3 linked regions of the Homo sapiens genome follow. The protein of the gene in region 2 purifies or fractionates together with the protein of the main gene of each other region. This does not show direct contact. Each region holds a gene or a part of one and is shown on either strand. Other genes may lie near its edges.

What was found.
Region 1: the proteins of RSL1D1 (region 2) and GNL2 purify together in Homo sapiens (affinity purification with mass spectrometry; 2 studies listed by BioGRID and IntAct, with this or other methods). This does not show direct contact.
Region 3: the proteins of RSL1D1 (region 2) and DDX18 purify together in Homo sapiens (affinity purification with mass spectrometry; 2 studies listed by BioGRID and IntAct, with this or other methods). This does not show direct contact.

Annotation. Positions count from the first base shown.
Region 1 is NC_000001.11:37,578,918-37,585,944, forward strand, and holds part of GNL2 (nucleolar GTP-binding protein 2), read right to left. Parts: intron 5,017-7,027; coding exon 4,950-5,016; intron 4,020-4,949; coding exon 3,861-4,019; intron 3,420-3,860; coding exon 3,306-3,419; intron 2,629-3,305; coding exon of another isoform or gene 2,425-2,628; intron 1-2,424. UniProt on the Homo sapiens protein: GTPase that associates with pre-60S ribosomal subunits in the nucleolus and is required for their nuclear export and maturation.
Region 2 is NC_000016.10:11,834,543-11,841,569, forward strand, and holds part of RSL1D1 (ribosomal L1 domain-containing protein 1), read right to left. Parts: intron 5,444-7,027; coding exon 5,153-5,443; intron 3,572-5,152; coding exon 3,245-3,571; 3' UTR 1-3,244. UniProt on the Homo sapiens protein: Regulates cellular senescence through inhibition of PTEN translation. Acts as a pro-apoptotic regulator in response to DNA damage.
Region 3 is NC_000002.12:117,824,684-117,831,710, forward strand, and holds part of DDX18 (ATP-dependent RNA helicase DDX18), read left to right. Parts: coding exon 1-25; intron 26-256; coding exon 257-418; intron 419-763; coding exon 764-916; intron 917-1,585; coding exon 1,586-1,699; intron 1,700-4,265; coding exon 4,266-4,322; intron 4,323-4,605; coding exon 4,606-4,783; intron 4,784-5,898; coding exon 5,899-6,041; 3' UTR 6,042-7,027. UniProt on the Homo sapiens protein: ATP-dependent RNA helicase that plays a role in the regulation of R-loop homeostasis in both endogenous R-loop-prone regions and at sites of DNA damage.

The sequences.
Region 1 (7,027 bases), on a different chromosome or scaffold from region 2:
ACTTGCGGGTCGAGGCTGCAGTGAGCCATGATCGCACCACTGCACTTCAGCCTGGGTTAAGACAGAACAAGACCCTGTCTCAAAAAAATTTTTAAAGTAAAAGAAAAAATTTTTAAGCGTGACTGTAGCAGAAAACACAAAAAAACCCACAAAAATTTGGAGGTAACAGAATCAATGCAGACAGGAAAATTTCAAAACGTCATTAATGATACTGTGACTGTGAAATAAGATGTAAAAGGAGGCAGAGCAAATCAGAATTCAACAAGAGCTCTCAGAAATTAAAAATTAAAAGCAATTGGCAAAATAAATTTTGTGACTGGGCAGCTGGATGATCAAAACAAGGAAAGTGGCCGGGAGCAGTGGCTCACGTCTGTAATCCCAGCACTCTGGGAGGCCGAGGGGGGCGGATCACCTGAGGTCGGAAGTTTGAGACCAGCCTGACCAACACGGAGAAGCCCCGTCTCTACTAAAGATACAAAATTAGCCAAGTGTGGTGGCACATGCCTGTAATCCCAGCTACTCGGGAGGCTGAGGCAGGAGAATTGCTTGAACCTGGGAGGAGGAGGTTGCAGTGAGCCGAGATCGCGCCATTGCACTCTAGCCTGGGCAACAAGAGCAAAACTCTGTCTCACAAAAAAAAAAAAGTACCCAGAAAATAGAGGAAAATGTCATATATGTACCAAAAGAAAAAATATATAGGCCAGGTGCAGTGGCTCATGCCTGTAATCCCAACACTTTGGGAGGCTGAGGCGGGCGGATCACGAGGTCAAGAGATCAAGACCATCCTGGCTAACATGGTGAAAACCCGTCTCTACTAAAAATACAAAAATTAGCTGCGCGTTGTGGCGTGTGCCTGCAGTCCCAGCTACTCGGGAGGCTGAGGCAGGAGAATCGCTTAAACCCGGGAGGCGGAGGCTGCAGTGAGCCGAGATCACACCACTGCACTCCAGCCTGGTGACAAGAGTGAGACTCTGCCTCAAAAAAAAAAAAAAAAAAAAAGAAAGCAAATATAAATCAAGAATTAAACCAGGAGGTAAAAGCAAATTTCTGAACAAGAATACAGACAACTGAGGGAGGAAAGAAAATTTCAAAGAAATAATGTAAGACAATATCAGACTAAAGTCTCATCAAACGCCAAGCTCACTGAGCAATAAAAGGCCCACTTCAAGACACACCACTGTGAAATTTTAGAACAAGAGAAATTTTAAATTTTAGAATAAGAAAAGATTGGCTGGGCGTGGTGGCACACACCTGTAATCCCAGCACTTCAGGAGGCCAAAACGAGGCAGGAGGATCGCTTGGGCCTAGGAGTTTGAGGTTACAGTGAGCTGTGGTTGTGCCACCACACTCCAGCCTGGGTGACAAAGCAAGACCCTGTCTCAAAACAAGAAATCACAGCCACACAAAGTATGAGGGGTCAGAATGGCCTCAGATTCCTCAGAATTCAGAAGACAGTGCAGTGGTAACCTCAGTATTCTGAGGAAAAACAGCATAAAGGGTAGAATAAAGATCTTAATAAAGATATTTTCAGAACGCAAGGCGTATCTCAAAAAAATGTTCTTTCCAAGTATTCCTTCTCAGGAAACTTTTGGAAAATATGTCCCATGGAAAGAAAGGAGTAAACCAGAAAAGAAGAAAAGAGGTCCTATAAATAAGAGGTCCCATACAGGAAAACAGCCATGGGAATTCTCTGGATGACAGTGAAAGGAAATCCCAGAAAGACGACGCTGCAGCAGCCTGGAGAGCGGCCAGCCCTGCGGAGGACGGAGTGCTGGCCACCGAAGGGAACTACCTGTGCTGCCTGGAAGCTCTGACAGTTCCCACTGTATCAGAGAATTTGGTAGTATGATAGTGACAGATACAAATAGAACACAGCAAAGTAACACTAGCGAAAATAAAAGCTTCGATCAGAAAGGAATTATACTCATAGCACACCATGTGGATCAGCTGTGACTAATATTTTACAGTCATGACAATGTAAAGACTGAATGGCCAAGACTACTCTTCCCAGCCTGTTAGAGTGGCCACCCTGCAGGCTGCAACCCTTTATGAGAAATAAAGCTCTCCTTTCCAAGTTAAAACAACAACAACAACCAACCAACACTGAATGAATAATACTGTAACCCAACATTGGCATCTAACAATACAGGGGGAAGTACATACAGAGAGAGGATGGCTATAAGATAGCAAATCCTCATTTTCCATAGTAAGAAATTAATAAGCATCTTAAACTGGGGGTGAGGGGTGGGCACAGATCAAGAAAATCATAAGCATGTACTAAAAATATGGAGGAAAATAACAGAACTAATGGCTATTGGAAGCATTTGCTTCTGTAAAGTGGGGAAGGGTGGGACAGCAGACATGTGTCTTTTGTTAGAAGCCAGGTAGAATTAACTAAATAGACAAATTCAAAATGACAGGTACAGAACATGAAGCTTTAAGAATTTGATAGGGTAGTCTGGTTCCACGGCTTCCCTCAGGAGCTGACGTCTGACCAGGGATCTGAAGCTTGAATTTTGGCAGGGCCCTCTCCAACCAGAGGACATAGAAGCTGCATGGGCTCCATGGGCAGAGGATGCACAGCAGGCCTGGAAAGCCCAGCAGAGCGTGGAACGTCAGGTGCCAGGGCTGTGGCAGAAATGGAAGCAACACTGGTCACGGATGGGGGCAAAGGCTGAGCAAGAAAACACTTCAGAATCTCTTATAATCCTGATGCTCTGTGAGTTTTTACATCTCTGGAAGTTTTTACATCTTCTTCTTCTTTTTTTGAGAAGTCTCGCTCTGTCGCCCAGGCTGGGGTGCAGTGGCGCAATCTCGGCTCACGGCAAACTCCGCCTCCCAGGTTCAAGCGATTCTCCTGCCTCAGTCTCCCCAGTAGCTGGGACTACAGGCGTGTGCCACCATGCCTGGCCAATTTTTGTATTTTTAGTAGAGACGGGGTTTCACCATATTGGCCAGGCTGGTCTCAAACTCCTGACCTTGTGATCTGCCTGCCTCGGCCTCCCAAAGTGCTGGGATTACAGGTGTGAGCCACCGCGCCCGGCCACATCTTTTTTTTTTAGAGGCAGGGTTTTGCTCTGTTACCCAGGCTGGAGTGCAGTGGTGCCATCATAGCTCACTGTAGCCTTGATCTCCTGGGCTCCAGCAATCCTCCTGCCTCAGCGTCCTGAGTAGCTAGGACTACAGACCTGCGCAACCACGTCCGGCTAAGAAGTTGGCAACTTTCTGCTATGCCATGGCAAGACAGATTCTTATACCAACTCACAGCTACACAACTCCAGGAGAAACAGATCAGGGCTCAATACCTTTCCAAACTGCCGCAGAAGCTGAATGAATGCTCCCTTGCCAAACGGGTTAGTAAGGCTTGCATGGAAAGCAAGTGTTGGATAATCCTGGGAGAGGACAGCAACCCACCGTTTCTAGAAGGAGAGATGAAAACATTTTGGTAAACTGCAGTACATTTATTTACATTATGTGGAAGAATCAGAGCTTGAATTACAGAACTGTTTCAAATATACTGTTGTCTAAGGAAAATGTTAGCTATAATTCTTTGAAATGTTTTTTCCAAGTATAACAGTTAATGCTTTGTTCTTCTGTCTTATAAATACAAAACAATATTCCAAAAAATGTCTTCATTGTTACTAAATGCAATTAATGGAGCATAATGTGAAGCAGGCAGTGGCCTCAGAAGCCGTCTCCTGGTGCCTCTGCCCACTATCAATGAGCACACTTTCGTGTTTCCAATGAGAGCACTCCCATTACTACAATCTCAGCCGGACAACACTTTAGCCTAAAAGCCCTACAACTGACTTACTAACAGATGTCTTAATAGTCTATTCTGGTTTAGTAGTTGTACTTACTGTTGCCCAGGTTGGAACAAGGTCACATTTGTTAAGTACAAAAATGAGGTGTTTCCAAGGTTTTTCCTTCTTCAGGTAAGTTTCAATGTGAGGGGAACGAGTACCCATTGGATCTCTAGCATCAAGAACTTGAACTACAACATCTGATGAATCTATCACCTGAAAATTCAGAAAGGCAAAAATGGTTTGCTACAGTACAAATAAAAGAGGGATGACATTTAAGGGAGTCTGGGAAAAATAAAATAATAATATTTAGAGACAACTTCAAAACAGTCTCTGGGCAGAGTTCGTTGTGGCTAATCTCAAGGCCCAGTGATCAGAATTCAAAAGGTTTTTCATCCTGTGGCTTTTGAAACCTGCTGAATTTAAAACAGAAAAACTAGCTTAGATGAAACTCAACTTATTTCCTAACTACTATGGATTATTGAACTAAATCATTTACTTCTTAGACTTCTTTAAGTTTGTAATATTATCTTTAAGTTTGTAATATTATAGGTTTTGTGTATTTCACAAAAAACTACAAAGTTTAGCTTGCCTTCACGGTACTAGTTTCCTATCATGTTACTATTTAATTACGTGATTATACTTGAAAATTTTTCTTCTGAAGGTTATTATTAGTGCATGGACATAAACCTCTGCCGGTTAAAGATCACTGGATCAGAAATCAAGATATACAAAGCCTCCTTCACTAACAAGCTAGTCGAGCTAGGTACAGCATTAAACCTTTCTAGACAGGAGTCCTCATCGATAAAAGGAGAGGGGTGGACTAAATAACTTAAAATGTTGCATGTGACTTTAACTAGGCATGATAAATTTGGCAGGAAATCTTAAAAAATACTGACAGGTAATAAATATGTGATTGTATAATAAAAGATAGCTGTTACTCTTATACAAGTACTTTAAAAAATGCAGTTACCTAGATCAATGGTAGTACGCCTTCCGAGTTTCTTTGTAGGAGGAAGAGGATGGAACAGGCAGTGGTGCCTGTACTCTGCGCAACAGAGCTTCAATATATCAAAATTAGTTTTCTTCTACAAAATCATGAAAGCCCAAGGAACCACTCAATGGGAGAGAATTTAGGAGTCTTACCTTGTAGAGCTCACCCCATATTCTTTTGGACTGTCCCTTTTTATAGATCTCTTCTTGAGCTTCATTTCTAAATAAGAAAGCACCCCAAATGAGCAACTGAAGCACCATCAAGACTAAAAGGATGCTTTAGGGTAAAGTCAATGTACCAAAAAAAACAGTATCAAACCCAGTTGGAGATGGACCAGAAACAAACTGAATTTAAAAAGTGTGCCCAAATGTCTGTCAACAAATAAATGGATAAACACAATGTGGCACATATATACACAAGATAGCATTCAACTTTAAAAAAGAAGGAAATTCCAGCTGGCTCAGTGGCTCACACCTGTAATTCCAGCACTTTGGGAGGCCAAGGAGGGCAGACTGCTTGAGCCCAGGAGTTCGAGACCAGCCTGGGCAACATGGCAAAACCCCATCTCCACAAAAAATACAAAAATTAGCTGGGCATAGTGGTGCATGCCTGTAATCCCAGCTACTGGGGAGACTGGGGTGGGAGAACTCCTTGAGCCCAGGAGGTTGAGGCTGCAGTGAGCCATGAGCAGGCTACTGCTCCAGCCTGGGTGACAGAGCAAGACCCTGTCTCAAAAAATAATTAATTAAAAAAAAAAAAAAAAGAAGAAGAAAATTCTGACACCTGCTACAACACGAATGAACCTTGAAGACATTATGCTAAGTGAAATAAGCCAGACACAAAAGGACAAATACTGTATGATTCCACTTATATTAGGCACCTAAACCAGTCAAATTCATGAGAGAGAAAGTAGAATGTTGTTACCAGGGGCTGGGGGAGAGGGGAAACGGACCGTTAGTGTTAAATGGGTACAGGGTTTCAGTTTGGGATGATGAAAAAGTTCTGGAGATGGATAGCTGCAATGATTGCACAACAATGTAAATGAACTTAGTATCACTAAACTGTACACTTGAAAATGGTTAGAAGAGCTGGGCACAGTGGCTCACACTTGTAATCCCAGCACTTTGGGAGGCTGAGGCAGTGGATCATAAGGCCAGGAGTTCGAGACCAGCCTGACCAACATGGTGAAACCCTGTCTCTACTAAAAATACAAAAAAATTAGCCAGACGTGGTGGCGGGCACCTGTAATCCCAGCCACTCGGGAGGCTGAGGCTGGAGAATCGCTTGAACCCGGGAGGCAGAGATTGCAGTGAGCCGAGATCACATCAAATGGTTAGAAGAGTACTTTTTTTTTTTTTTTTTTGAGACGGAGTCTCGCTCTGTCGCCCAGGCTGGAATGAGTGGTGCGATCTTGGCTCACTGCAACCTCCGCCTCCCGGGTTTAAGCGATTCCCCAGCCTCAGCCTCCCAAGTAGCTGGTACTACAGGTGTGCGCCCCTGCGTCCAGCTAATTTGTGTATTTTTAGTAGGGACTGGGTTTCACCATGTTGGTCAGGCTGGTCTCAAACTACTGACCTCAGGTGATCCGCCCGCCTCAGCCTCCCAAAGTGCTAGCATTACAGGTGTGAGCCACTGCGTCTGGCCACATTTTTTGTTACATATATTTTACCACAATAAAACATTAAACTAAAAAAAAGCATGACTGAATTAGGCAGTATGTCACAGAGAATTACAAAATGGAATTGGCAGGACCTGAATCACAACCTATACTCCATAGCTCCCATATACAGCAGTATTTTTCTGATAAGGTTTAGAATCTGTTTATTTACTAGTCTCTAGGACATTTACCCAAGGTAAACAAAAATAGTTTTGTCTTTACTGCATTACCTACTATACCTGTTGCGGAAGGAAAAATTCAAATCGGCAGAATACAAAGCCAACGAAAGTTCAAATAATTCTAAGAACAAATAAATGAACTCACTGCCTCTTTTTGCTTGGCCTCAAATGGCTTGACATTTTATCTCTAGGTGGCCCAATGCTTGAAGATGGGCTGACAATAGCAATGAGGTAATAACACTGATGCAGTCAAAGGACAATGCCTCTTCACTAAGACAGCAAAACCTCCACTTCATTTAAGAGACATGAGATGGACGAGAATGAGAGCTTTCTAGCACTGCCCAAGGGAAATGAAATTAAACCCTTTCTCAAGAGCAATGTGGCAGCTGCCTAT
Region 2 (7,027 bases):
GCTATTGCTGGAAAATTATGTCATGCAGAGAACAGACTGGCACGATTACATATGTGGGTTTGTCCTACACAAACCAGACCTTTAAGTGAAACAAGTCTATCCAACCATCTTCCCATAAAACCTAGTTTCTATGGAAAACAATCAATTAAGCTAAACCCCCACATTTTAGATGTATATTCATTTATAGAAGCCCAAAAGGACAGTGGGGTTACAAATAATTTTATATTTTAGATGCTTTCATAATTTAAAAAGTTAACATTACAATTTGTGTTACTAAAATGCAAAAACAGGATTGGCATGCTGCCTCATGCCTGTAATCTGAACATTTTGGGAGGCTGAGGCAGGAGGACTTGAGCCCAGGAGTTCGAGCCCAGCCTAGGGAACACAGGGAAAACCCATCTCTACGCAAGACGTAAAAACTGGCCAGCTGTGATGGCATGCCCCTGTAGTCTGAGCTACTTGGGAGGCTGAGGTGGGAAGATCGCCTTGAGCCCAGGAAATTGAGGCTGGAGCTGTGATGACACTAGTGCACTCCAGCCTGGGGAACAGAGTAAGACCATCTCCCCCACTGCCCGCTACTCTCGCTACCAAAAAAACAGCAAAAGCAGGCTAGACTCCTCTAATTTCAGGGAGAGCTAGATGTTTTTTTTTTTCTCTTTTTTTCAGTTTTGCTCTGCCGCCCAGGCTGGAGTGCAGTGGTGTGATCTCAGCTCACTGCAACCTCCACCTCCCGGGTTAAAGTGATTCTCCTGCTTCAGCCTCCCAAGTAGCTGGGATTACAGGTGCCTCCCACCATGCCTGGCTAGTTTTTGTATTTTTAGTAGAGATGGGGTTTCACCATGTAAGCCAGGCTGGTCTCAGAACTCCTGGCCTCAAGTGATCTGCCAGCCTTGGCTGGGATTACAGATGTGAGCCACCACGCCCAGCCTCATTTTTTTTGAGACTGGGCCAGGGAAGGGGGCAGTGGGCCAGGGACTGTCTCTCTCTGTTGCCCAGGCTGGAGTGCAGGATCGTGATCATGGCCCATTGCAGCCTCTACCTCCCGGGTTCAAGCAATCCTCCCACCTCAGCCTCCCAAGAAGCTGGGACCACAGGCATGTTCCACCACACCCAGCTTATTTTTGGTAAAGATGGGGTTTTGCCATATTGCCCAGGATGGTCTCGAACTCCTGGGTTCAAGCAATCCACCCAGCGTTCCAAAGTGCTGGGATTATGTTGCGAAAAGCTGAGTGTTGGGAGAAGCTGAGGCAGGGCTTGCATTCTGACATAATGTAAAAGAGTCTTGGAATATGTCCAGGGTCAAGGGTCTAAAACCCCTTGTGGTCTTTGGAACACCAAGCTCTGTGCTAAAGGGTGGAAGGCTGCCCTGACGCACCATAATCTAAGCCCAGGGCATAAAATCCCTCGTGGCTTGGATAAAATCCAGGGCCTGTGGCTCTGGAATGTCTAGACTTGCTGGCTCCTTGCTCTCCCAGGATCGACTGTAACTTGAGTTAAAAGAACCTGCTCTCCATCATCTCAAGTAGCAGAGCAAATGCTAAACCATCACAGCTGTAAATCATGTGCTTAATGCAAGGTGCCCTTCTGACCTTCACATTCTCACCATCTGTTTCTTTGTTGGATTACCAATAAATAGTGTGGGCTCCCAGAGCTCACGGCCTTCACAGCCTCCACCATCCCGATGGTCTGCTGGTCCTACTTCTCTCTCAAACTGTCTTTTTCTCAATCCTTTGACTCCACTGGACTTTGTCACCCCCACGACCTGGTGTTGGGTCTGGTCACCCTAACAGGGTTACAGATGTAAGCCACTGCATCTAGCACCCACATTATCTTTGAAAGCAGTTGAGTCTTTGGCATGCAAGAACATTCCTGCACTGCAGTGAATCTGTGAACTTACTACTACGGATGCATACCAATTCACAACCAGTGAAAGGCCACGTACCTAAAAAGGTGTTTACTGCCTCAGAATATACTTGACAATTGTGGAAACGTTAGCAATCTACTCTTCCAAGATTCCTTGGAGTTGTCATACATAAGCAAATCCATATGGACTGAGGAATAAGGAGGAAGAGGATAAGGCTTATGGAAGATAAATCATGTTCTTGCCTCCGGTAGGTAGGATTCAATTTAGTCCCTGTATAAATGACTCCATGTTAATTTCCCTTCCCATATGGATGCTAATCCAGTGACTCATAAGCTTAGACCAACAAGCTCAGCATGAAAGCCAAGAAACTTCTGTTTCTCCTAAATTCCGTAGCCGACTCTCATACAGCGAGACCCTCACTGGGCCACTCTGGGAATGACTACAAATGAATATGATGGAGTCCATGTGAATAATGGTTGAGCAGGTGAGGAAAAGGGTCACATCACAGACCTCAAGTCAGACCCACTGATTTGGAAAGCCAACAGTATACTCAGAAGCAAAGCAATGTTATACTTTGTTTTTTCTGAGACAGAATCTCACACTGTCACCCAGGCTACAGCACAGTGGGGTGATCGTGGCTCACTGGAGCCTCAACCTCTTGCGCTCACTTGATCCTTCCACCTCAGCCTCGTGAGGAGCTGGGAGCACAGATGCATGCCACCATGCCACACTAATTTTTTTTTTTCTTTTGTAGAGATGGGGTTTTACCAAGTTGCCCAGGCTAGTCTCAAACTCCTGGCCTCAAGCAATCCTCTCACCTTGGCTACCTAAAGTGCTGAACAACCACAGAGAAGCACTCTATTTTTCCCTCTATTACATTAGCAAATACACAGAAGGACAATTTAGAAACAGATTATACCCAGGAACATATGTCAGGATTACTTATGGAGGTTTTATTATTTTTATTTATTTTTGAGACTGAGTCTTGCTCTGTCATCAGGCTGGAGTGCAGTGGCTCACTGCAACCTCCGCCTCCCAGGTTCAAGCAATTCTCCTGCCTCAGCCTCCCTAGTAGCTGGGATTACAGGTGTCCACCACCATGCCCAATTAATTTTTGTATTTTTGGTACAGACAGGGTTTCACCATGTTGGCCAGGATGGTCTCGATCTCGTTGACCTTGTGATCCGCCTGCCTCGGCCTCCCAAAGTGCTGGGATTACAGGCGTGAGCCACCGCCCCTGGACTACTTATGGAGGTTTTAAAAAATCTTTTAAGTCCAGGCCTGACGTTTAGAGAAGGTTACAAAGGCGGCCAGGATCTGAGTATTTCCAAAAAGCTCTGGAGGCAGCATTGAGGTTTCCTTCCAGTTGAATCACTGACTTTAGGTCGACTGGGGTACTTTGGGTTTTTTGGGCCATTTTTTGGGGGTGTGGGAAGCTTTTCTCACAGATTTACTAGGAGTGGTGAAAAACTTGGCCTCTGGCTTTTTTGGAGTCTGTCTCGCATCTTTTTTCCCCAGCGAAGGACTTTTTTCCTTCACTGCCTCTTCTTTGATTTTTGGCTTCTTCTCTGGGCTTTTCCCTGGGGTCTCAGACTCTGCAGCTTTTGGGGTCTCAGATGCTGGCAAAGCCTTTCTTTTCTTCCCACGAGGTGTGCTGGGATTAGGACTCTTTGCTGGAGACTTCTTTCCTGTGGCATGTTTTTGAATCTAAGAAAAAAAAAAGTAAGTTTAATATAGAAAAAGCCACAAAACCTGACACTCTAACTCCAGGAGTTACTGTTTTTATTTGTATTTATTTATTTTTCAGACTGAGTTTCGCTCTTGCTGCCCATGCTAGAGTGCAATGGCACAATCTCAGTTCACTGCAACCTCTGCCTCCCGAGTAGCTGGTATTATAGGTGTGTGCCACCACGCCCGGCTCATTTTTTGTATTTTTAGTAGAAACAGGGTTTCACCATGTTAGCCAGGCTGGTCTCGAACTCCTGACCTCAGGTGATCCACCTGCCTCGGCCTCCCAAAGTGCTAGGATTACAGGCGTGAGCCACTGTGCCCGGCCAAGTTACTGTTTTTCAGCGCATGGCCAAGTTACTGTTTTTATTAGTTAACCCCCAAAAGGTACACCTCAGTATGATGACAGAAATAAGCTGTATTCCACTATTAAGAATGAGGTATAGGTGAGGTGGCTCATGCCTGTAATCCCAGCACTATGGAAGGCTGAGGCAGGTGGATTACTTGAGGCCAGGAGTTCAAGAGTAGCCTGGCCAACATGGCAAAACCCCATCTCTACTAAAAATACAAAAATTAGCCAGGCATGTTGGCACACACCTGTAATCCCAGCTACTCAGGAGGCTGAGGCACGAGAATTGCTTGGGCACGAAAGGTGGAGGTTGCTGTGAGCCGAGATCATGCCACTGCACTCCATCCTGGGCAACAAAGTGAGACCTTGTCTCAAAAAAAAAAAACAAAAAAAAACTGTGAAGACCCAGAGGTCTTCCTGGTCCAATCAGAGGAAAACCACCTTTCCCTATGACTGAGGGGAGGGAATCCTGGAAGCACCATGAGGAGCACAGCAGAGACACATGGGAGCAAATCCTGAGTCTTCCAAATGTAGCTGCACATCCCTGGCACATGGTGTAGGGCAAGGGTTCCCAGATTCTCTGTGTAAAAGCCAACTGGTGGCTGAGTGCGGTGGTTCATGCCTGTAATCCCAGCACTTTGGGAGGACAAGGCGGGCGGATCACCTGAGGCCAGGAGTTCAAGACCAGCCTGGCCAACATGGCAAAACCCCGTCTCTACCAAAAACACAAAAATTAGCTGGGCATGGTAGTGCGCGCCTGTAATCCCAGCTACTCGGGAGGCTGAGGAAGGAGAATTGCTTGAACCAGGGAGGCGGAGGTTGCAGTGAGCTGAGATCATGCCACTGCACTCTAGCCTGGGTGACAGAGTGAGACTCCATCTTCAAAAAAAAGCAAAGCAAAAAAAAAAAAAAAAGCCAACCGGTTGGGACTAGGTGTGGTGGCTCACACTTGTAATCCCAGCACTTTGGGAGGCCAAGGTGGGAAGACTGTTTTGACCCCCGGAGTGTAAGACCGGTCTGGGCAATATAGCAAGATCCCATCTAAAAAAAAAAAAAAAAAAAAGGTACAATAAATCATGATATGATAACCACCTTCACAGTTCTTTGGGTTCACTCTAGTATTTTTCATCATTTATTGCTCAGCACAGTACCTGCCTGACACAGTAGCCACTGAACCAATCCATTATGAACAGTAAATATTAAAACAATACCTCTACTTTTTCATTAGCTGGAGTCTTCTTTCCTATTGGTACCAGCTGTGGGATTTCGTCTTCGGATTCATTTGTTGCTTTAACTTGGGCTTTTCCTCTGCCACGTTTTTTCTTCCCATGCTCTGGGGTCTGTTCCTTCTTTGATTCAGGTTTCTTCACTGTAGTATCACCACTTTCAGGTGCCACATCATCTTTACTAAGAACTGATGCAGTCTTCCTAGCCTGCTGCCTCTTCTTCTTCCTCTCCTTTTGTTTTTCAAAATTTCTTTCTCTTCGTTTTCTCCTTGCCTCCTACCAAAAAACACCATACAAACATTTTAGCAGGAACAGTTCTGTTGGTTAACAAACGGCATAGATGTACCACGTGCAGTTTTGATTATCCATAAGCCCCTAAATGGACCTCGATCTATACAGAGAACAAACTCCCTAACCAGCACTGGAACCTCAACCGCAGTTTTTGACTCACAGCCAAACATGCATTTTATGCAGTAAATTATATACCGGCATTTCAGAATCTGACTATCTAAAGTATACAGTTAAGAGACTTTTGTGAAACACAGTATGGTTTAGAGTGTAAAGAATAATACTCAGCTGGGCGCGGTGGCTCACGCCTGTAATCACAGCACTCAGGGAGGCTGAGGCAGGAGGATCACTTGAGGTCAGGACTTCGAGATCAGCCTGGTAAACATGGTGAAACCCCATCTCTATTAAAACCACAAAAATTAGCTGGGCATGGTGATACGTGCCTGTAGTTCCAACTACTCAGGAGGGTGAGGCACAGAGAATCATTTGAACCTGGAAGGCGGGGGGTTGTAGTGAGCTGAGATCATGCCACTGCACTTCAGCCTGGGCGACAGAGTGAAACTCTGTCTCAAAAACAAAATTAAAAATTCATTGGACACAATTAACATGGCTAAAGAGAGAAACACTAGGAGATCAGTCTAACAAATAGCAAAAAATTAAATTTTCTCTCCTTCCGAAAGCTTCTTTTGCTAGAGTACGAGTAATACTGAAAACCTACAAACCAAGCTCAGGAGGTATCTGTGAGCATAACCTCCGACATCCAAATACGTGCACATTAGGTGAACTGGTGTGTTGAAGTTATCCCAGTCCCAGTCCCAACGAATGTAGGTGTATGAGTTTGTCCTGTGATGAAACAGCGCCTTTTCTAGGGTTGGCTCTTGCCTGTTACCCTTTTCCCTGAGCTATCAGGATTAAACTCCAGCCACCTACAACCGTGGATGGGAATAACTGGGTAAATAATTATGTCAATTCCTTTTATTACTGTTTCAAATGTATATATAGCTCACATTTATTTCAATGTTTAATATTTTAAATGTTTTGGTCTTTATTTAGAAGTATGGTGATGTTTCTATGACCGGAAATATGTGGTAGGAACTTAACTCAGGCCCCCTCAAAAGCCAGTTAATCCAGGCCAGGCATAGTAGCTCATGCCTGTAATCCCAGCACTTTGGGAGCCCAAGGCAGGCGGATCGCTTGAGCTCAAGAATTCAAGATCAGCCTGGGAAACAGGGCGACCATGTGTGTACAAAAAATAATTTAAAAATTAGCTGGGCATGGTGAAGCATGCCTGCAGTGCCAGCTACTCGGGAGGCTGAAACAGGATTGCTTGAGCTCAGGAGGTCAAGGCTGCCGTGAGCCTTGATCACGTCACTGTGCTCCAGCCTGGGGGACAGAGTGAGACCCTGTCTCTCTAAAAAAACCCAGCAAGCACTGGATCTAACAAAAATAAAAAAAAAATCCAATTTATCAATAAATACAAGATATTTCTATCTTAATGCGCATTACTAACATCAACTACCTCATGTAAAGTGACAAAAGCATACCCATTTTACCTCATGTAAAGTGACAAAA
Region 3 (7,027 bases), on a different chromosome or scaffold from region 2:
TGCAACAGTGGATGGTCTTGAACAGGTACTTTTTATCAATAACTGAAAACTGTAGGGATCTTACTTGGTGTTTTTATGTAATTGTTGGAAGGATCATTCAGAAAGCAAATGGGTTAATGAACTTTTAAAATGCTGTAGGTGAGGCATGACAGTTTACACACTGTGTTTATCAGTGCTCTTGATGAAATTACACAAGTTAGGAAATGGAAAATGTCCACTTGGTTCATTTGTATCTGTCTGCTTAAACGCTTTCTAGGGATATGTTGTTTGTCCTTCTGAAAAGAGATTCCTTCTGCTCTTTACATTCCTTAAGAAGAACCGAAAGAAGAAGCTTATGGTCTTCTTTTCATCTTGTATGTCTGTGAAATACCACTATGAGTTGCTGAACTACATTGATTTGCCCGTCTTGGCCATTCATGTAAGTGATGATGATGAGCTCATTGAAAACAGGGTATGCTTATTAAATCCTATAGATTGTAGGATTGGAGGTATTGCCCTCTCCTGGAAACATTGTTCTGAGTAGTTTGATCACCACTAGATGATGGATCCTGTGTGGGGGAGCGCTGCTGGGTGTGGAGGGGTATGAGGACTTTCGAAGAGTGCAAGACACCATCCTCCTTGAGGGGCTTGCGGAACAGTTGGGGAAATAGGACATAGGCCAAGGGATGAGCTCGAAATAGGGTAACAGTTCCACAATTTGGGGGTTCTACTGCTAGTCTTCCTCAAGATTCCAGCTCTAATGGATGTTTTTATTTAATTCTAGGGAAAGCAAAAGCAAAATAAGCGTACAACCACATTCTTCCAGTTCTGCAATGCAGATTCGGGAACACTATTGTGTACGGATGTGGCAGCGAGAGGACTAGACATTCCTGAAGTCGACTGGATTGTTCAGTATGACCCTCCGGATGACCCTAAGGTAACTGGCATCTTTGGAATATCTTCAGAATGACTCTGCATTAAAAGTTCACTTATTCTCCCAGTTCCCTGACGGAAACTGCATTCCACATTCAAGGTAAAGATCCCTACTATACAGTGACTGCAGTATTTCTCTGGTATTGAAAAGTACTTAAGGCTTTTCAGGGCTCAAACGGGCTGTGCCAGAGGATTGAAAAGGATCAGTGGGACTTAAGTTATGAAAATGAGATCCTTGGAATGATCTCTTAAGAACAGCAGATGCCTGAAGGAAATAAAATTGCTTAAGGAAGTAGATAAACTTCTGTAGTATATGTGGTAGAATAAGCTTCATTGAGAAGTATTTTCAACAAACACTGGATTAAAGCCGTTTTGATGATGAAGCACACATAATACTCATTTTATTAGATCGCTGTTAATGCAAACATCATGTCCAGCCTTTTTTTTTTTTTTTTTTTTTTTTTTTTGGGCCTCAATCATTGGCCTATTGGGGGTGATGTGCACAGAGCGATTGCTGGCCCAGCTTTGTGGGGGTGTGGTGAAGGTGTGTGTGGCCCAGCACCGTGGGACTACACCATCTCAGTACAGACATGCACATACTCAGGATGCAGATACGCAAATGGGCTCATGTGGAAGTCACTGCGTTAACTCAGATTTTCTTTCTCCACCAAAGGAATATATTCATCGTGTGGGTAGAACAGCCAGAGGCCTAAATGGGAGAGGGCATGCCTTGCTCATTTTGCGCCCAGAAGAATTGGGTTTTCTTCGCTACTTGAAACAATCCAAGGTAAAGATCTGTACTTGGAGAAAGATTTCTCTTGGTGTAGGGATTGTTAGCAAGCAACATTTCTACATGTGTCAGAGGAGTCTCGAGTCTGGCCAGTGCTGTTACAACCATTCTTATGGCAATTAAGCAAGTAAGGTTTTATGTACTTCTAGCCCAAGAAGTGAGCACAGAAGGAACTGCCCACATGGCTCGGCTTTCTAGCTCTGTTACCCAGCAACACCTCTGTGTCCCAGCCTCTCCTTTCCTGTTCCCTCCAGCCCTCTTTGAAACCTTCTCCACTCCTTTGAAGCTCCCTCACACCTAGTCATCTCTGCTTCTGCTCCCCTTCTTTCCTCTTACCTCATGTGAAGCAGTGGGGAATCCTTGTTCGCTCTAGCCTCTGCCTCCTCCCCTGCCCTCTGTCTCCTATTCATCAACTCTTGGCCTACAGTCTCTTCCTTGCGGTTGGCGCTTTACCATCTCAAATTTCTCACTGTAAAAAAGTAACTTCAACCTTAAACCTGTTCTTCTACCCCTGCCTGCAGGAGCTACTGTCTGTTGCCTTTCCTCAGTCAGCCTTACTGGAAAAATGGCTTATATTCTTGCCATTTACCTCCCTCTCAGTCCCTAACCAGCCTAATTTGGCTTTAGCTTTCTACTATCACACCAGAATTGAATCCATCAGGACCCTAAGTGGCCTCTTCATTGCTAGGCCATGTGGGGGATGCATATCAGGCCTTCTCCTGCCTGACATTTACATCCTCATTGGCCTTTCTGGCATAGTCTTGATGATAGGCTTCCTCTACCCTGTAACTGCAGGCAGTTCCCTGAAATTGCTCTACAGCTTTTGCACACTTTGTCCAGAATGCTTGGTTTCAGCTCGCCTCTGTCTTTGCTGGGAAGCCATCGCTGATCTCCTGCCTCCTTGTTCCCACAGCACAGGTGCTCATCAGGTTGACATTTCTTTCTTTCTTTCTTTTTTTATTATTATTACACTTTAAGTTCTAGGGTACATGTGCACCATGTGCAGGTTTGTTACATATGTATTCATGTGCCATGTTGGTGTGCTGCACCCATAAACTCGTCATATACGTTAGGTATATATCCTAATGCTATCCCTTCCCCCTCCCCCCACCCCACGACAGGCCCCGGTGTGTGATATTCACCACCCTGTGTCCAAGTGTTCTCATTGTTCATTTCCCACCTGTGAGTGAGAACATGCGGTGTTTGGTTTTCTGTCCTTGCAATAGTTTGCTCAGAATGATGGTTTCCCGTGTCATCCATGTCCCTACAAAGGACATGAACTCATCCTTTTTTATGGCTGCATAGTATTCCATGGTGTGTATGTGCCACATTTTCTTAATCCAGTCTGTCATTGATGGGCATTTGGGTTGGTTCCAAGTCTTTGTTATTGTGAATAAACATACATGTGCATGTGTCTTTATAGCAGCATGATTTATAATCCTTTGGGTATATACCCAGTAATGGGATGGCCGGGTCAAATGGTATTTCTAGGTCTAGATCCTTGAGGAATCGTCACACTGTCTTCCACAATGGATGAACTAGTTTACAGTCCCACCAACAGTGTAAAAGTGTTCCTGTTTCTCCACATCTCCTCCAGCACCTGTTGTTTCCTGACTTTTTAATGATCGCCATTTTAACTGGTGTGAGATGGTATCTCACTGTGATTTTTATTTGGATTTCTCTGATGGCCAGTGATGATGAGCATATTTTCATGTCTGTTGGCTGCCTAAATGTCTTCTTTTGAGAAGTGTGTGTTCATATCTTTCGCCCACTTTTTGATTGGGTTGTTTGATTTTTTCTTGTAAATTTGTTTAAGTTCTTAGTAGATTCTGGATATTAGTCCTAGCCAAAATTGACAAATGGGATCTAATTAAAGAGCTTCTGCACAGCAAAAGAAACTACCATCAGAGTGAACAGGCAACCTACAGAATGGGAGAAAATTTTTGCAATCTACCTATCTGACAAAGGGCTAATATCCAGAATCTACAGGTTGACATTTCATTACTTATCTTTCTCCCCCTCAAGACGGCAAGCTCTCTGAGGGCAGAGTCCATGAGTTAGGTACCTATTTTCTCTCTAGCACCTGGCACAGGCCTGTTGCTTTTCTAGTTATCTAATGAGTGATAACTGATGGCAGATCCATCCTGTAGGAGTTTGTGGTCATCATGGCCTCCAGTGTCACAAGCCTCAATACAGGACTGTGGGGGTATTAGGGCCCCTCTTCTGACATGGAGAAAAGGGGCTGATGGCCCTTCTGACTAGAAGCTTCAAGCTGATTCATGGTTGCAAATAGTCAGGATTATAGAGATTCTTACAGAAAAGTGCTTTACTGACTGTGTCCCTATCCAGTTCCTTGCCTTTCAGAAAGAAAGAAGTGCAGATTGCCTAACTCAGCAGAGCAAAGATGTAACTTTCCCATCAACATTGGGAGACTAGAAAAAGCAGATTTTCCTTTCTGTCCTGAGGGAATTTCATAGGCCGGTTCATCCTTCCCTGTCTTCAGTACCCAGTATCGGAATGCTGATCATCCTGGTTTACTAATCTTAATACTTTTGATTTCTAGGTTCCATTAAGTGAATTTGACTTTTCCTGGTCTAAAATTTCTGACATTCAGTCTCAGGTATGTGCTTTTTAAACGTTTGTGAGTAAACAGGAACCTTGTCCCAGCACTCTGTTTGTAGTGATTCACTGGGCAATCACTGTCCTTTGAAGTCTACCCTGTCCTAAAGTGAGGATCAGGCTGTGTAGTGTATAAGGTTTCTTGCTATTCTAGTTATCACCACTCTGTGCCCTCTTTAAATGTTTTCCATGGAGTGGCTTTGCTCTAGGATATTTAAAATCTGGTGTTTTGGAGGTTTTTGTTTGTTTTTGTTTATTAAAACCAGTGTTTCTTTCTATTTCAGCTTGAGAAATTGATTGAAAAGAATTACTTTCTTCATAAGTCAGCCCAGGAAGCATATAAGTCATACATACGAGCCTATGATTCCCATTCTCTGAAACAGATCTTTAATGTTAATAACCTAAATTTGCCTCAGGTTGCTCTGTCATTTGGTTTCAAGGTGCCTCCCTTCGTTGATCTGAGTATCCTTTTCTTTAATGAAGTTATCCTGTGACTAAGGAACAAAAGCTTGACAGAGGGGCATTTGGGGCTTTGCAGTGGATTGGTATGTGTTCTGGCTCAGACTGGAGGCTCCAGTGTTCACCCTGGTCGATGTCTGCTTTTCTGTGCTAGCACAGGACATAGAGGTTGGATGGGGTAAGCAGGGCTTAATCATTAGGATGGGGTTACAGGGACAAGGCAGCTTATGCCTTGAGCCTTCAAAAGACAAAGAAATTTGACTGTCAAGGAGAGACAGAGACAGTTGTGTGTTCCAGGCAGAAACACAGGTTAAAAAAATCAAAACTTCAGTGTTTGCTGAGGCTGCACTGTGCAGGGTACTTAGGTGAATGGGGTGTTTTGAAGCTAAAGAGAGGATGGGACCTTTCAAGGAGTTTTAATCATCTTAGAACCCCTGAAGGATTTTATGCAAGAAAGTGGCAAGTTCAGCAAAAGAAAATAAAACTTAGGTGTTGCTTAAGATAAAAGGCAGGAGTACTTCCAGTTGCTTCAGTTGTGATTTATAATTTGTGCCTTTCAGAAGAAGAAACTGAGCAGCTGAAATGAGGCCTGTGCTTCAGTGCCATAGGGGTAACTTCTGAGGGAACTAGAGGACCAAATTTTGGGTCACCATCCCCATTGTCAGCATTGAGTAAATGTCAGCTGAAATGAATGTATGTCGAGTCCTGTGGAAGGAAGAGCAGCTCCTTCACTTAGGCATTCCTAAATCAATTCCGAAGAGAAATGATAGTCATTTGTTTTGACACAGGAGGTGTTTTTTTAATGTGCTCCTACCAACTTCCTGATTAAACTCATAAATCCTTATTCACTGTCATGAATTTCATCGTGTGGAAGAAATAATTAATATGACTATTACACACCGAAGTTTAAAATCATACCTGCTAATTTAAGTCCACAGTCACGTGGCCACTCCTAATTTTCTGGAAATTTATTGCATAGGCTTATGTTCCCACATTTTCATTGTTGAGAATGGGGTTGTGGAGGAACAGTAGTGTTCATGCCGGTTTTTTTCTCTGTGTAGATGTTAGATTGGAGTTCATTATCTTTTTTGCTTGATTTCCTTAATGTTTGCCTCCAGACGTCAACAGTAATGAAGGCAAGCAGAAAAAGCGAGGAGGTGGTGGTGGATTTGGCTACCAGAAAACCAAGAAAGTTGAGAAATCCAAAATCTTTAAACACATTAGCAAGAAATCATCTGACAGCAGGCAGTTCTCTCACTGAACACATGCCTTCCTTTCATCTTGAATAACTTTGTCCTAAAATGAATTTTTTTTCCCCTTGATTTAACAGGATTTTTGTAGACTTTAGAATTTGGACTTACCTAACAAGAGTATAAATTGACTTGGGTTGCAAGCACTGAGCACTGTTACTTCTATCACGTCTCTCTTTTATTTCTGGGATATAAAACAGGCTTTAAGTTTCTTGGTTGCCCAAGGGCAGAGCAAGGAATATCTGGTGTTTCTTGTGATGATAATATTTTAATTTTAAATATCCCTCCCTCATACAAGTGTATGTTACCATTTTAATATAATTCTTTTTGTACCTTTCCTTCTTGTTTTGCGAAGATTTTTGTGGCATGGATTGCTGTGCTCACTGCTGTAAAAGGTGACCTAGTGTACTGGGCAGCTGGTGGCGGTGCAGAAAAGAGTCTCAGGTTATTTTTTGTTTTTAGTTATTTCTTGGACCTTGACAGTATCTAATGACTCCTCCTGAAAATGCTGCAGTATAAAAGAGCAAAGAGCTTTGGGAAATACCTAAGAAGCACCTTAAGATTAGGGTGGCATTGCTTTTATAGATTCTTGATTTTAAAGCAACAGGCCTTTCTCAGGTGTTGCATTTTTTGGAGCAAAAACTATGGGTTGTAATTTGAATAAAGTGTCACTAAGCAGTTATAACGTTTGATGGCTGGGGGGTAGGAAGAGGATGGAATTGAGATGTTTGAGCCTCATTTACATCAATAGAGGTGTAATGTACTGCATTTCTTCATTTGGTAACATAACAAAGACTTTCATACAAAGAACGATGATGCTCCTCATTAAGATTTGTTTAATTCAAGGTGGTTTGGATTTGGTAAGCCTTTGCACTCTGTAGAGTACTTAGAAGACAAGGGCAACTTACTTGGAGTTAGAGCCAAGCTGTCAGACGGTGCCCAGCACACATTAATGTTAGCTTCTTTCTGAGAAAAAAATACCTCTTCCAGGCCCTGA